Regions from separate parts of the Homo sapiens genome. Here regions 1, 2 and 3 are each linked to region 4. The links come from fine-mapping of genetic effects on gene expression. A gene starts in region 4. Each other region holds a variant in brackets. All regions are shown on one strand. Distances are between the middles of the regions.

What was found. PIP is the estimated chance that this variant, and not a neighbour inherited with it, causes the effect.
Region 1: its variant is fine-mapped to the expression of PMFBP1 in whole blood (TOPMed, PIP above 0.99).
Region 2: its variant is fine-mapped to the expression of PMFBP1 in whole blood (TOPMed, PIP above 0.99).
Region 3: its variant is fine-mapped to the expression of PMFBP1 in tibial nerve (GTEx, PIP 0.97). The same link has a PIP of 0.9 or more in thyroid.

The regions. Positions count from the first base shown.
Region 1 is chr16:72,403,482-72,407,648 of GRCh38, forward strand. The region is part of intron 7 of LINC01572 (long intergenic non-protein coding RNA 1572); the gene reads right to left. Among named protein-coding and RNA genes, the nearest start is that of PMFBP1, 230 kb to the left of the region's middle. The variant A/C (reference allele first, on the strand shown) is at 1,761.
Region 2 is chr16:72,662,589-72,666,755 of GRCh38, forward strand. It overlaps LINC01572 (long intergenic non-protein coding RNA 1572), which reads right to left and starts at 2,382. Exons shown (of 14, transcript NR_126330.2): 1 at 2,304-2,382. ZFHX3-AS1 (ZFHX3 antisense RNA 1) reads left to right here and starts at 2,545. Exons shown (of 4, transcript NR_171704.1): 1 at 2,545-2,745. RefSeq lists enhancers at 2,124-2,243, 2,284-2,343. The variant G/C (reference allele first, on the strand shown) is at 2,366.
Region 3 is chr16:72,868,327-72,872,493 of GRCh38, forward strand. The region is part of intron 4 of ZFHX3 (zinc finger homeobox 3); the gene reads right to left. It overlaps LOC124903715 (a long non-coding RNA gene), which reads left to right and starts at 4,012. Exons shown (of 2, transcript XR_007065111.1): 1 at 4,012-4,167. The variant C/T (reference allele first, on the strand shown) is at 2,111.
Region 4 is chr16:72,169,885-72,174,025 of GRCh38, forward strand. It overlaps PMFBP1 (polyamine modulated factor 1 binding protein 1), which reads right to left and starts at 2,271. Exons shown (of 21, transcript NM_031293.3): 1 at 2,170-2,271; 2 at 1,313-1,384. The coding sequence starts at 1,324.

The sequences.
Region 1 (4,167 bases), 230 kb after region 4:
TGGGAGAAATCCTCCCCATGATTCAGTTATCTCCCACCCGGTCCATCCCACAACACGTGGGAATTACGGGAGCTAAAATTCAAGATGAGATTTGGGTGGGGATACAGCCAACTGTATCATTTGGCCTTAACTATCTCATGTGTAGATGATTGCAGAAGGAAGCGCTAGAAAATTCTCATCATCTGACTTTTCGTACACCAACTAAACTTTGAGATTATTTGTACAATATTATTCTTCAGTTCAAGTATCCCATTGGCTACGTATTAATCAGTAAGTTTATTACTCAAGGTACTTCATTGTTAGAACTACTGTTTTATTAACTACGAGTTTATTTCCATAAAAGATATTCCACTTCAGCTGCTCACTATGTTTGCTATTCTCAGGTTTGACTTTTCTTGCCTTCTAAGCTTTTAGGCCATATGGTATAACATTGCCTAAAGAACATCTTCATTACTGTGATGAGTGGCAGATCATTAAAAAAGGGTGTGTGTGTGGCTAGGGGTCAGTGGGGAGACTTCTGCTGCTGATCATTTGTTCTACAATTAAATAAATAAAATTCAACTTGATTTTTTTTTGGCTTGGTAGCCTAGAATTTATATCACTTCCCTCTTTCATCCATAAAGATACATAGGCTTCATCCTCTTCAAAATCCAGCTGAGAAGTTAACTTCAGGAATCTTTCCTGGACTGATTGTTCATGGATAAAATTTGTCTCTACTTAGTATCTGTGCTCTTTATTCAGAATTTTTAAGTGCACAGTTGTTGATATGGTATCATTTTCAAGTACTTTGCAGTCCATATATAATGTTTGTTATATGTGTATACACACATCTGTTATCATAAGCCTAAGATACATAATAATGTCATATTCCTTTTAATTTTCAAATTAAATGTCTCTATGCTTTATTTTCTCCCCAGGATGTTTGCTTTGCTGACAACTTCAAGACCTCTAAGGATGCTTATTCAGACTTACAGGTCAGTTCTGGTAAGCATCCTCTGACTAGTCAACCAAGCAGTTGAATTCTTTACAGCTGTTACTAATGTCACTGGCACAAGATATCCTTATTGAAACAAGGAGAACCCAGCAGCCCCAGCATGTTCTTTGTTGTCACTATTTAAATACTCTGATGCCATAATTCTTGGTCATTGCTGGATAAGCAACAATAAATTGGGCATGGCTTTTTTCTGAAAACCTGCCCAGTGCAAGCCTGCTTAGGGCTGAGCCTGTGAGTACCTCTCAATGCATGGGAGGAGCCCAGCTGTACTTACCTACATTTCTTGTGACTTTGGCTCACAGCCAGGTCTTCACGTACCAATGTATGAGGCTCACATCTTTGAATCTGGGCATGCATATACAAATATTTTCTTTAAGGGTACCCATAGTACCAGGGTGAATAAGTTTGAAGGACTTTCTAGACTTAGTCTCTGTCCTTTATAAAACCATCAGATCTTGTGAGACTTATTAACTATCACGATAACAGCACAGGAAAAGCCTGCCCCCATGATTCAGTTACCTCCCACTAGGCCCCTCCCACGACATGTGGGAATTATGGGAGCTACAATTCAAGATGAGATTTGGGTGGGGACAAAGCCAAACCATATCACCATGCCAGCTTCTTTCCCCAGTGTGGCTCCAAGAATGCTGACAACCAAACTCATAATTTCAAGACAGGAACTTAGAAAAATCCTCTCTGAAATAGCACCATCATAAAATAAGAGACTTCGTAATACTGACATTTGGAGATCCCTAATAAAATGACT[A/C]GTCATTCTGTCTAACATTGATTTCAACAGATAACAATCCACATTTATGCACAAGAAGATTTCAATTGTCTTTTTAGAACCTCACCCTCAAATATGAATGGAAAGTCAAGGACCAGATATCTAAACAAAGTTCCTCTCTCCATACACTAAAAAGCTGAATAAGGAAAAAAAAAAATTGACGAAAAGAGAACAGGAAGCAGAAAATAATCTCATAAGACCCATAATCAATATTGTTAAATAAGAAAATATTTTGATTGCATTCATGAGACAAGAACGAGAGGGCATAAAAAAGGAACATTCTATGTGCAAAAGTATTATCCAAATTTTAAAATTATGATGCCGTTACACTTTTGGCAATGGTAGATTGACTTGTATTATGTTAACCTTCCAATAGACAGCAATACATTCTGGGGAAAAATATAAAAACAACTATTTGAAGGCACTGGGACAACTTAAAGCAGGTAGAAACTGAAAGGGGAACTGCATTGATTCTGCATCTGGCTTTTCACTTAAAGGCTCTTTCCAGTCAGTCTACACCACATGAAACGGCTGGAACGCAAGCAGAAAGCTATAGTCTTACCTGATTTGAGGATTCAAAGGAAAAAATTTTGGGCTGATGGAATTGCTAGAAAATCATGGGAAGACCTCAGACAGGAGAAAGCTGAGGGCCTGGAGGTATAAAATCTTCATATAAACCCCCTCAAATCCTTGGCTGGTCTTGATTAATGCATGTGCAGAGGACCTGGCAAAAAACAACAGCTGGAAGGCTAAAAAAAATGAGTGAAGAGTTTAGCTCAGGGAGGAGTTTCATTTTTGAGCTCAGTCCCTTGAATTGCTTGCTAGAACAAAATCAGCAGTATTTAAAGATAGCCATAGCCTCCACAATAGCACAATTAAAAACTACTAAACACATGAAGAAACAGTGGATGGAAAAAAAGTAAGTTGGAGAAAGCCAAAGAAAGGAAGCCGTGAACTTGAAAATACATCAATAGAAAATATTCAATCTGAAGATGAGACAGAAACAATATTGAAAAAAACCTACAAAGACTCACTATTCTGTGGGACTATATTTAAGTGGTTTTAAGTTATATTTAAATGTATTCTCAGAGCTGTGAAAATGCAGTATAATAAAAGATTTGAGGAAATAATGACCAAATTTTTCCTAAATTATGAAAGACATAAATTTATAGATACAAGATCTGAACTCCAATTAAGATAAATACAAAGAAACCACACTTAGGCACATTTTCACCGAACAGTTGAAAACATAAATAAAGAGAAAAGCAGCCAGAGGAAAAACAGCTCCATTATAAACAGGGGAACAATTATACAAATTATTACTGATTTCTCATCAGAAACAATGGAGGTGAGGAAATAATGGAACATCTTAAAGTGCTGAGGGAAGCAGGAACTGCCAATCTTACAATCTCTACCTAGGAAAACAATCATCTTAAAAAATGAAAGCAAAATAAATAAATTTTCAGAAAAAATTGAGAGAGCCTGTTATCAGCAGAATGGTTCTAAAAGAAATATAAATTCTTCAGGGTGAGAAAAATCAGATGAAAATTTATAGAGAAAGAATGAAGAAATATGAAATGGTAAATACTTGGGTAACTATAAAGGACTATACTTTTTCTTATCTTTAAAAGAAAATGACTAATGAAATATAATAACACCTTCTCGGTTAATGTATATATTACCTATAAGATAATATCACAAAGGATGAGATGGTAAATAGAAACAGACTGTTACATGGCTCTAATTTTTTTTTTTTTTTTTTTTGAGACAGAGTCTCATTCTGTCGGCCAGGCTGGAGTGCAGTGGCACAATCTTGGCTCACTGCAACCTCCACCTCCCAGGCTCAAGCAATTCTCCTGCCTCATTCTCCTGAGTAGCTGGGATTACAGGTGTGTGCCACCACACCTGGCTAATTTTTGTATTTTTAGTAGAGATGGGGTTTCACCATGTTGGCCAGGCTGGTCTTGAACTCCTGACCTCAAGTAATCGACCCGCCTTAGCCTCCCAAAGTGCTGGGATCACAGGTGTGAGCCACTGCACCTGGTCACATGGCTCTAATTTTTAAAAAATGCCTTCATTGAAATACAATTCATAATACAACCTACCCATTCCAAGTATACAATGTAATGGCTTTAATTATATTCATAGTAGGGTAAGAATGGAAATGGCAGCCGGGTGCAGTAGCTCATGCCTGTAATCCCAGCACCTTGGGAGGCCAAGTTGGGTGGATCACTGGAGGTCGGGAGTTCGAGACCAGCCTGGCCAACATGGTGAAACCCTGTCTCTACTAAAAATACAAAATAGTCAGGTGTGGTGGCACGCATCTGTAATCCCAGCTACTCGGGAGGCTGAGGCAGGAGAATCACTTGAACCCAGGAGGCGGAGGTTG
Region 2 (4,167 bases), 490 kb after region 4:
ACAATGCAATGCCAATCTTATACAAACTTTTTCAAGAAGTAAAGAATACAACACATCCCAGATCACTTAAAGATGTCAGACACCATTACCCTAATTCTAAAACCAGACAATCAAAATAAAGCAAAACTGAAGACCAATCTCCCCAAAATGGCAACCGAACAGTGAAAAAAAATTTAGTTAAAGCCATTCCTCACATCATATATAAAAGCAAATTTCAGGTAAGCTAATGTTCTCATGTGAAAGATAATGCCTGAGATGGTTAGGAAGAAGATTATGAGATTATATTCAGGTATATGCTGGTAGAATTCACCATAAAATTATTTTAATATAAAACATCCAAAAAATTAAGGCACACAAACTATTTTCACTCTTCATGTTGATCAAGAATTTTCCTATTTCTTGTTAATTCAAAAAGACTCTGGATGCAATACCTTGTGAACTTATTTTTTGGTATGCCCCTGTGCTCATATACTACCTTACTACCTTTATCTCTCTGTTTTTTGTTTGTTTGTTTTGGAGATAGGCACGATCATTGGCCACTGCAGCCTGGAATTCCCCGGCCCAAGTGATCCTCCCACCTCAGCCTCCTGAGTAGCTGGGAGCAAGGCGAACACCACCACGGCTGGCTAATTTTAAAATTTTTTTGTAGAGATGGGGTCCGACTATCGTCTTGAACTCCTGGGTTGGTCTCGAACTCCTGGGCTGAAGCAGTCTTTCCACCTCAGCCTCCCAAAGTGTTGGTTGGGATTACAGGCGTGGACCGCCACACTTAGAAATGACTTTTCTAATATCCTTAAATCAGAGCTCATGTAAAATTTTCAGCCTTCTCATTCCACCTCCCTCCGAACTACAAGTCTTAAAACTAAGAAATGACAGCCATTCGGTAGAAGTTAAAACACTGTTTCGCTGCTTATTTCTACTTAAAAAAATTATATACATAGATATATATTATGTAAATATATATAATTATATATATAGACATACGTGTGTGTATATATATAAATAAACGTGTAGAATTGGACTGGGGTCCCACTAATATCCACATTTCAAAACAGAATCTAAAACTCCCTAAAACAGGGTTGGGCTCGGCGGCTCACGCTTGTAATCCCAACCCTTTGGGAGGCTGACACTGGAGATCAGTCTGAGCAACAAAGTCAGATCTCTTTTCTACTAAAACAAAATACAACTCTCTAAAACTAATACAAAATTTTGTGTGTATGTGTCATATTCTGGAGAAAAGCTCCAAGGTTTTCCTCTGGGTCTTAAACAGGACTAAGACCCCCCACCCCCAAAAGAATCTCTGTTCTAGAGGCTAAGCATATAGAAGCTCATACTGCATTATCAAACTGGAAAGTTAATAGAGGATTTTCATGGTCATATACAGGAGAGGTGGGGAAAGCTGTCTATTTAGACTGTAAACTCCTAAAATGTTCATAAATCTCAATGGAAATTAAATCCACCGGGGTGGGAGAAGTATCACAATAGACAAAGAAGCTAAAGGTTAATGAAGAGAAGGTTTTAATCAGTGGTTACTTTTGTGCTTGGGATCAATCCTCAGTTTGTCCTCCAACGTAACTTTTGGCATTATTCATTTCAAAGTCTGAACAGTATCCATAAACCCAATACGAAACCTATGGATCCAGAGGGTCCGACCGAAAACAAAACAATTATGTTTCCGATGTGAACGCATCAATAGCTTACTTTTGTAGCGCTTTATAAAACGCTGTCACTTGCTGCTTTCCACGTCATGATATTCCCGGTCGGGAAGAGTAGGACAGCAGCATCTTTTATGAATAAGGAATTTTTTGGATTCAATTTGTGAGGTGTGGGACGCTCACCAGGTTGCGCGAAAACCATTTTTCTACATCGTCAAGTGCACGCACCCCGTGTCTCATAGTATTAGTGATGAAGACGAGGATGAAACTACCAAAGACATCAGTGGGGAGTGAATTATACTTGGGGGAGGTGTAAGCACGTCGAAATAAGGAAGCTGAGAGACATTTTGTGAAAGAGGGAAGGTAGCGTTAAGAGGAGCCTTCCATCAGGGGCAACAGAACGGGGGCAGGCGTGGCGTCTCTGGGACTGCCGGAAAACGACGTGAGGGAAAAACTCAGAGGCTACGAAAAGGCGAACAGACGGAGGGCCTGCCTCAGGGGAGCTAAGCAGCTCGCCTGAAGCCCCCCATCTGGAAATGACGTGTTTAACTCGGCGCCCCTGCAGCTCCGGCCGCCCTTTTTTGTTTAACTCCGCGCCCCTCCAGCTCCGGCCGCCCTTTTCGTCGCTCTCCCCTCGCGGTCGCTCACCCCTGAGATCCCTGGTTCCACTGAGACGCTCAGCTTCATTCGGCAACTCGCGGACACCAAGC[G/C]CCACAAATTCAAATACGAGATCTAGAGACGCTGGGTCTCAAACGTCTCCCAGAGTGAAAGACAGAGGAACCAATCGAGGCTCGGCTGACCTCAGACGTCTAAGGCGATAGGCGTTGCTAAGAAAAGGGGGTGGGACGATACCCAGTTGCCAAGACGACGGCTTCCGGGTGGGCGGCTTGAGGTGGCTTCCGGCCGCCAGGCGAGACTCCGCGGGAAAACTCCCTGCTAGAGAGACTAGGAGATTTGGGGCTGCGGCCGTTTCCTCCGGAGCACCCACGGGACTGTGTGCTGGGGTCCCTCCACCGGCTGTGTCCTTTATTCTTCTTTCTCACCCAACGATTTACCTGAACGGTTATAAAGTGCACGTTATTTCCCTAAGGTAAGCGTGTGGTAGCGCCTCCTCCTCCTCCAACAGGGGGGTAACAGAAACCTGCTGTCAACTTTGTTACCCAACATAACTGTACTTAACCACAAAAAGTTGAAATTTTGGATCTTTAAACATTCAATAACCTCTTGCTGTGTGAGGTTTTTTAACTGCACTACATACATTTTGTAGTCTTTAACCATTGAATGCGATTTAAGTTTACAATGAAATTTAACGTTCTGGTTGTTTCTGACCCCAAATTTCATCTGAACCAGTTAATGGACGAAGAACTGAAATTTTATTTTCTGTGACAGTCTCATAGGTTCTCAGACTTAAGTTCTTAATCGCCCATAAATCTGAAGGCAGGTGTTAAAGATGAGCAGGTGATTTGAGCCCAGTCCATGCCAACACTCAAACTAATTCAGCTGAGACTCCTTTCGTTAGGAGCATTATTTTAATTTTAAAAATTTTAAACCGAATGGTAAGCATGGCTGCTTTAGTTTCAGTTGTGTCTCATTTGATGATGATAGTCCCACACAAGACGATCTCATTTGTCAATGAAAGTAAACATTAGTGACCACACAGCTTTCTGCAGATAACTCTTTAAACGAACATCTTTTATCAGACCACAGAAATCATTGTTATTGTCACTAAAATGTAAAAACTAAAGCAAAACTTATCTGCTTATCAACAATTTCTTCCTCCATAGCTAAGGTAGGGAAGCATTTATGAAAGCTTAGATCTATATGTGTTTGGGATCCTGCCAACCCCTTTCTTAAAATTCCATCTTCAAAACTCCCTGCTAATGAGCACTTTTCCAACAGCTTGGATGAAACATTCTGAATAATTCGTCAGCCTGAAGGTTAGAAATTTCATTAAATAAAAAATTAAATACACAGAATACTTAAGTATGAAACATTAATGAACTGAGTAATACATTCTTAAGAAGAGGAGGCACTTAGGAAAACACAGGCCACCTGCATTGTGGAGCCATTTAATGTGATGAGATTTGATAAATGGGTAAGAGATCAAAAAATGCCCAGGGTTTCAAAAGAGAATGTTCCATGAGCAGCTTACTGCCTACATAGACCATTTGAAAATCAAACCAACTCAGCAGAAGCCCAAGAGGCCTTCAGATGAACCCGAGTATCCTTTGGATGTCAGTGTTGTACTGAACAAAGTCAGTTGAACTGTTATTTATCTGACAAGAAAAAAAAATGCCTAAATTTTGTAAGGACTTACACCATTCATTTAAAAATATATAGTGATCTTAGAGGTTAGAAAGCACAGAAAAGAAACTTGAACATAGAGGTACTTAAAAGGAGAAAAATAAATTTCCTCCGGTAGTAGACATGTATTTGGCATTGTTCACTGTTATCTCCTTGATGTCCTCTCTCCTCAGCTTGGCTGAATCCTACTTACGCTTTTAAGACCCAG
Region 3 (4,167 bases), 700 kb after region 4:
CAAGGCCCAAGCTCACATCCTCAGATCATCCTTACCTGCTCTCTTCCCCATTTCTCCCAGGTGGAACCACCTAAAAACAGCATTAAGTGTCTCACTCTAACCTAGACCCTCTGGCATCCTGCACCTTACATAAGCTTTCCCTCACATTCTTCCATCTTCCACTGGGGAGCCAGTCTTACCCTCTAAAACAAGGAGAGATCAGGTGACTTTGCCAGGTCCCCCAGATCTCAGGGCTCCGCACTCCCTAGAGGGGAAAGTCCTTGCTTCTCCCCCTCCACCCGTTCGCGCTCTATCTTTGGCTACAACTACATCCCATGACCTTTATACACTGGCAGATCTTCAGTTTTCAGGGTCCACATCGACAGGCTTCTTAGGAATCTTCTCCTGTTAGACAGTGAGATTCCTCAGGCACAGAGAGCCTCCTGGTCACCTTCTGCACCTCCACCTTGATTGCTTCTCCAGGCTCAAGGCTCAGTAGCCCTCTGTTCACCTCAGGAGTTGTAAGAAACAACCCTATTGTACATACAGCCTTGGAGATGAAAGCAGGAATAATTACCTCCAGAAAGGAAGAGTGGGTCTTGGCAGGAATTCTAAGAATGGACAGGAGAAAAAGCTGACGATGATTTGACATGAAAGGAAGAAAAATCAGAAGGCTGTATTTCCAAAATCCAAATAACAGAGAAAGGGTGAAAGGTGAAGATGAGACTATGCTTTCTGAGCCATCCCAGGGCAAACATCTGCTTTCTCATTCATTTCCTTCAGATAAGGGAGAGAAGACGGAAAGGAAGGCAGGAAGGACTTCAAATTTTTAACAGTTTTAGTAGAGAAAATGGAAAATTAATCAAATGCTATTACCAGGCCTTACATTTAAAAAATACTGGGGAGACTAGAAACACGAAACAGCAAGCCTGGCCCTGGAGCCTTCACTTTCCCTTCTGTGAGCTCTTGCACAGTTACCAGCCCCTCTGCCATCATCCTTCAAGGACCAGCCAGCCAGAGCCCTCGCCAACCAGAGGCTCAGTTATAGCAGAACACACTGATGAGAGCTAAAGGTGTTTTTTTTTTCTTAAATAAAAGATTTAGAAATAAGTTACAATTTATCATAATACCAACTTTCACATTCTAAGACCCTGTTACCCAGGCTCTGTCCAAGGTAACACATGATCTTCCTTCTTATTCTGTAATAGTTTCTTTGTCCACTTCCCAAAGCCTCCATTCCTCGTTTGACACCATGAGTGATCAGTGACATTTTAGAAAATTCTTCCCAGTCTTTCTAAAGTTCTGGCCTGCTGAATTTCCTGATCATCTAGAAAACCGGGAAGGGGAGTATAGGCTAAAAATAAACCTTAATGACCACCACTTTCATTTGCCAAATATTTCTCCCTATTGATTTTTATTAGCCATTTTTTCAAAACAATCTCATTTAAACAGTTCAATTCCTTATTAAATCATCTCCAAGCATATCCTCACTAGATTCTCATTAATTACAAAGGGAAAAATAGTAACTTCAGAATGGATAACCCCAGAAGGAACCACCATAACTAACTGACCAAAGCTGATGCCCGCAATCAAGAGACAAATCAATATCATGTATCTCATGAAACAATACACGAGAAAGAACACGCTTTCTTTTTTGGCATTTCTACCAAAATACACAGCCTGATTCTAATCATAAGGAAGCATCACATGAACCCAGTTGAAGGATACTTGACAAAACAGCTGACCTACACTCTTCAAATATGTCAAGGTCATAAAAGGGCAAGACAGAGGAACAATGCTAGATTAAAGAATATGGGCCAGGTGAGATGTAATCCCAGCACTTTGGGAGGCCAAAGCGGGCAGATTGCTTGAGCCCAGGAGTTCAAGGCCAGCCTGGGCAATGTGGTGAGACATCATCTCTACAAAAAATACAAAAACTAGCCAGATGTGGTGATGCATGCCTGTAGTCCCAGGTACTCAGGAGGCTGAGGTGGGAGGATCACTTGAGCCCAGGAGGTGGAGGTTGCAGTGAGCCAAGATCTCGCCATTGCACTCCAGCCTGGGTGACAGAGCTACAGAGCTAGACCCTGTCTTTAAAAAAAAAGAAAAAAGAAAAAAAAACGGCTGGGCA[C/T]GGTGGCTCACGCCTGTAATCCCAGCACTTTGGGAGGCAGAGGCAGACAGATCACGGGGTCAGGAGATCGAGACCATCCTGGCTAACACAGTAAAACCCTGCCTCTACTAAAAATACAAAAAATTAGCCGGGAGTGGTGGCAGTGGTGGCAGGCGCCCTTAGTCCCAGCTACTTGGGAGGCTGAGGCAGGAGAATGGCATGAACCCAGGAGGCGGAGCTTGCAGTGAGCCGAGATCGCACCACTGCACTCCAGCCTGGGCGACAGAGCAAGACTCTGTCTCAAAAAAAAAAAAAAAAAAAGAAAGAACATGAAAGAGGACAGCTAAATATACCTTGTGATCTAAGATATTCTTTTCATACAAAGGATATTATTAGGAAAATTTGAATAAGGACTATAATAACCTAATAGTTTTATAGCAATGTTAGTTCTCTGATTTTGATCATTGTTCTGTGGTTATGTAAAATATCTTTGTTCTTAGGAAATACACACTAACTTATTTTGATGTCAAGGGGCACCATGTGTGAAATTTACTCTGAAATCCTTCCCAAAAAAATGGCAATGTGTATATTTCTATTTATTCTCCGTCTTTATGGAGAGAGTAAGATTATGAATGCGAGAGAGAAGTCAAAAAAGGAAATGTGGTAAAATGCTAATATTTGGGGAATGCAGGTGAGAGAATTTTCTTACTATGTAAAGTACATTACTTTTCTATAAGTCTGAAATTATATCAACATTTTATTTATTTATTTATTTTTGAGATGGAGTTTTGCTCTTGACGCCCAGGTTGGAGTGCAATGGCGCAATCTTGGCTCACTGCAACCTCTGCCTGCCAGGTTCAAGCGATTCTCCTGCCTCTGCCTCCCAAGTAGCTAGGATCACAGGTGCCTGCCACCATGCCCGGCTAATTTTTTTTTTTTTTTTTTGAGACGGAGTCTCACTCTGTTGCCAGGCTGGAGTGCAATGGTGCAATCTTGGCTCACTGCAACCTCTGACTCACTGGTTCAAGCAATTTTCCTGCCTCAGCCTCCCAAGTAGCTGGGATTACAAGCACGCGCCACCACGCCCAGCTAATTTTCATATTTTTAGTAGAGACGGGGTTTCACCACGTTGGCCAGAATGGTCTTGATCTCCTGACCTTATGATCCGCCTGCCTCAGCCTCCCAAAGTGCTGGAATTACAGGTGTGAGCCACCACACCTGGCCTTTTTAAAAATATTTTTAGTAGAGACGGGGTTTCACCATGTTGGCCAGGGTGGTTTTGAACTCCTGACCTCATGTGATCCGCCCGCCTCAGCCTCCCAAAGTGCTAGGATTACAGGTGTGAACCACCAAGCCTGGCCAAAATTTTAAAAATTTTTTAAGGAATTGGCTGGGCGCGGTGGCTCACGCCTGTAATCCCAACACTTTGGGAGGCTGAGGCAGGCAGATCACGAGGTCACGAGATGAAGACCACACTGGCTAACACAGTGAAACCGTGTCTCTACTAAAAATACAGAAAATTAGCCAGGCGTGCTGGTGGGCGCCTGTAGTCCCAGCTACTGGGGAGGCTGAGGCAGGAGAATGGCATGAACCCGGGAGTCGGAGCTTGCAGTTAGCCGAGATCCTGCCACCGCACTTGCACTCCAGCCTGGGCAACAGAGTGAGACTCTGTCTCCAAAAACAAAAAACAAAAAAAAAATTTCAAGGAATTACAAATTGAAATTAAAATAAGATTCCTAACATCCCCAGTCCAATTATATAATTTTGTATTCTTAAGTATTGCAATTATATATATTATGCATATTTCAGATGATATGCAAATTTCATTTACTACTTATTGTTTCCATATTGAGGAAAATGTTCAATGAAAACAGAGCTCCTATCAGCACTTGCAGTTCCCCTCCAATACAAATAGCCCCAAAATCAACATATTATTCCCCTCTTTAAGGCTTTCTTTTTACTCAGAATTCAACATGTGAAAGTACTCTCTAGGTTCTCAATTTGTTTAGGAGATTACGAGAAAAATAGGAGTTTTCAGGTATTTGTGTTTTGCTTTTTTTGAGACAGAGTCTCACTGT
Region 4 (4,141 bases):
ATCATGGAAGGCTAGATTAGTGTTTGCCATAAAAACAAAATTGGCACACCCTGTAAGTATACAGACTAGGATACATATGACATATGTTGGAGATCAGCCACCTATGGAACGTGGGCTGATTTTTATTGGCACCTGGGCAATTTTCACAGACTTTTTTCACTATCATATCATTTGAGAAATTATTCTACTAAGAAGGTAAGCTCCATGAGAGTAGAGATCTTTGTCTATTTTGTTCACTGCTTTATTCCCAGCTCCTAGAACAATGAACGCCTGGCATATTGAAGGTGCTCCAAAGATATAAATTAAATGAAGAAAGAGCCTTCTAGAAAATCCATACGAGATCCTTGTTCCCCACAGAACTGGTATGAAGTTCTGTATGGCTCCAGTAATGCAGCAGGAAAGGAGTGGACTGCCTGTTTCAGAATCTGCTCACCTCTTGGTAGGAGGTCTGTTAAAAAGCATATGGTACATGGGACAATCCTTTACTCATCAAAAAAGTCCCCTTAAATCCTTTCTGGAACAAGGTAGGGCATACATAAACATAGTTTGCTGCTGTTGTTGTTGTTTGAGACAGGGTCTTTGTCGCCCCGGCTGGAATGCACTGGTGTGATCATGGCTCACTGCAGCTTCAACCTCCCAGGCTCAAGTGATCCACTTGCCTCAGCCTCCTGAGTGGCTGGGACCAAAAGAGCGTGCCACCACACCTGGCTAATTTTTTTTATTTTTTGTAGAGACAGGGGTCTTACCATGTTGCCCAGGCTGGTCTTAAACTCTTGGGCTCAAGTGATCCTCCTGCCTCGGCCTCCCAAAGTGCTGGGATTACAGGTTTGAGTCACTGCGCCTGGCCCCATAAACACAGTTTGACCAAAATATTAAACTAATCAGACACTCCATTTTCATATCATTCCAGATAAAGAGAGAATGTTAGCAACAATAGTTAATATCGATTAAGTGCTTTCTACATGCACTACCTTTGCTAATCCTCATACCAAGTCTTTGGAATAGGTGATCATCATTCATATTTTCTAGATAAGGCAAAGGAAACTTAGAGTAGGTGATCACAATTCATATTTTCTAGATAAGGCAAAGGAAACTTAAAAGTAGGAAACAAACTCAGTATCATACTGCTGGTAGATATGGACCCAGACCCACCCAGCTCGAGTCTGGGCTCTTAAACACGATGCTCTGCTGCCCACCTCTGTCCATGATATTTTGTGATGCTTATTACTGGAATTTTGAATCATAAAACATGAAAAAAGTCCCTTGTAATGAATATTCAACTCCATGCATGTAGAGGAGTTAGGAGCCTTACCTCATCTTTCATTTCCTTGGCAGCTCTCAATTCTCCTTTAACCTTTAGTATTTTCTGAGCTTTGTTATAAACCTGAAAAAGTCCAAGTATTTAAGATGGAAAAAGTATAAATGAGCCTCTGCCCTTTAAAGATTTTCCCAGCTGGATCTATGCCCTCAGCAAGAGGTTTGGAAAATTTTCCTGAACTGTTAGCAATACCCACTTGCTTACCCATCTGTTTGTGTTTTTAAAAGGGTGTTAAAACCTCCAGATGGCAGGACCATGGTTTTACATCTTTTCCAGAAAACCACTACTTGGTGAACCAAACAGTTTCTGAATTTACCCTTCTTGGAAAGCAAAAAGTCTGAATCGAGTTTACTTTTTAGATTTCTATGTACTCTATGGCTCAGATATAGCTAATATTATGTACTTATTATGAACCAGACATGATGTGCATGACCTAACTTCATTCTCACATGAACCCTGGGAGGCAGGGACTACTACTATCCTCATTTAAAGATAAGGAAACTGAGGCCCAGAGAGGCTAAGTGACTTACCCAGGGTCACAGAGGCTCTCTTACTACTCTATGAGGAGCTTCCATTAATTTTGTAACTATTCATATGAAATATCTGATGATATGGTGTTTTTGAAGCATCAGCTTGCCATAATGTTGATGCTCATAAAGTTAGGAAACATGTGAAGTGCTGAGACTTATCTAGCTAGAAAGCCTCCCAGGAAACCAAAGATCTTTGCACATGTATGTGCATGTAAGTACAGGATGATGCATTTGAGGTCATAATGCACTGAGCTTATTAAAATCATCTCATTCATTCTGTTTTTAACCCTAAGAATAGAGGAATTTCCACCAGGAACTTACCTGCAGAATAGTTCAAGGAATGAGAAGCTATCAAAATACTCATCCTTTGTAACAAACCACATCCCCTATCCCTAATATAAGCCAAGAGGAAGAAAGAATGTTGGTGATATGTGGAATCTGGAATGTTTTATGGAGCTGAATTCTGATTTCCTGCATTGAGTACCCTCTGAAGTCTTCATGCACAGAGGTGCATCATGGAAATGGAGGTGTGGCTCAGGCTCACCTGGTGGGGACAGGCTAGGTGATGGTGTAGTAACAAACAACCCCCAAGTCTCAGTGGCTTACGACCGTGAAGGTTTATTTTTTACTCATGCTACATGTCCTTTATGAGTCAGCTGGGGCTCTGCTCCACATTGTCCTCAATATCCTCGTAGTCCTCAGCTGGTGAACTTCTATTATCTAGTATGTTGCCTGTTGCCATGGTAGCAGAAAGGGAACTTGGTGAATCACCTACTGGTTCTTAAAGCGGAAGTGAAACACTTTGCTTCTGCTCACATTTCATTAGCCAAAACAAGTCACATGGCCATGCCTAACTTCTTCCTTTACCTCCTCAAAGAAATATAGGCATATGTCAGAGAGATTGCGGGTTTGGTTTCTGACCACCAAAATAAAGCGAATATCACAATGAGACAAGTCACACAAATTTCTTGGTTTCTCAGTGCATAGAAAACCTATGATTACACTATACTGTGGTCTACTAAGCGTGCAATAGTATTATGTCTAAGAAAACAAGGTGCATAACTTAATTAAAAATACTTTGTTGCTAAAAAAATGCTGATGTGGACATAAGGGAGCACATGCTGTTGGAAAAATGGCGCCAATAGACTTGCTTGATGCAGGATTGCTACAAACCTTCAATTTGTTAAAAATGCAATATCTGTGAAGCACAGTAAAGTGAAGAGCAGTAACACGAGGTATGCCTGTACTGGCGAACTCACAAATGACTTCCACACTAGTCAAGCAAGATTAAAAATAGCGTGGCATAAAAGAACACTAAACAGGATTCTAGGCCACCAAGCTTCTAAACCTGGTTCAGCACCTCACTGGAGGAGTGGCCTTTGCAAAGGCCTTCATATCTCTGAGGCTTCATTTCTGCTTCTGTAAGCTAGGAAGCTATAATAAATGGCCTTTAGAAGTCTTTCCTAGCTTTAAAGTTCACTGATTCAGTGCTCTACCACGATGGACACCTTTCTTTAGGAGGAACTATGAACTCACCCAAGTATCATACAAAAAGTTGTAATGGAACAAATGTATCCTTGAGAATCATACTTCTTTGCAGGCAAGCCCACTGGATAGTCAGGAGATGATTCTGAAATCAAATGAAATCTTGTCCAAAAGACAGAGAAATGATTTTCTAGATTGTGATGGTTTCATCCGCTATGGAGTTACACAGCTGTAGTTGCAAGAGCCAAGAGCATTTCGAAGGAAAAGTAGAAGGCATAGGTTCTAACATTTGCATGAAAATATATTGAAATTTACTAAGTAAGGTAAGTAGGAAGAAAAAAAGAGAGCTGGAGTTTGTTCCATGAAGGAGATGTCAGAATCTTCAGTCATTAACAATAGCAGCAGGCAGTTTGGAAGGGCTTATGATGAAAAAACTGGAAGTGTTATATGATAAGTTTTTGATACATTTGACAGTAATGTTTGCCAGATGGATAGGGAAGAGTGTTTTGGGGGAGCCCCACAGGCTTTACGAAATGCCATGTGAACCTTCACAGTGCTGTCTGACTGAGGAGTATGGCTGGACAGATATTTTGTGGAGGAAGGGCTCATCCCAGAGGCAGGGACTCTCTACCAGATCCCCGGCTACTGACTCTCTGAAGCCAGGACTTTGCTCATGTCTCCCTCTTCTTGAACCCTTGTTCTTACATATTCTGTTCTGCCTCTTGCGTCTCTGTTGAGACCTTCATTTCTTCATGCCTTGTCTACTGCCATCTGCCCAGGCAACTCCTTTTTTGTATTCAAAACTCCT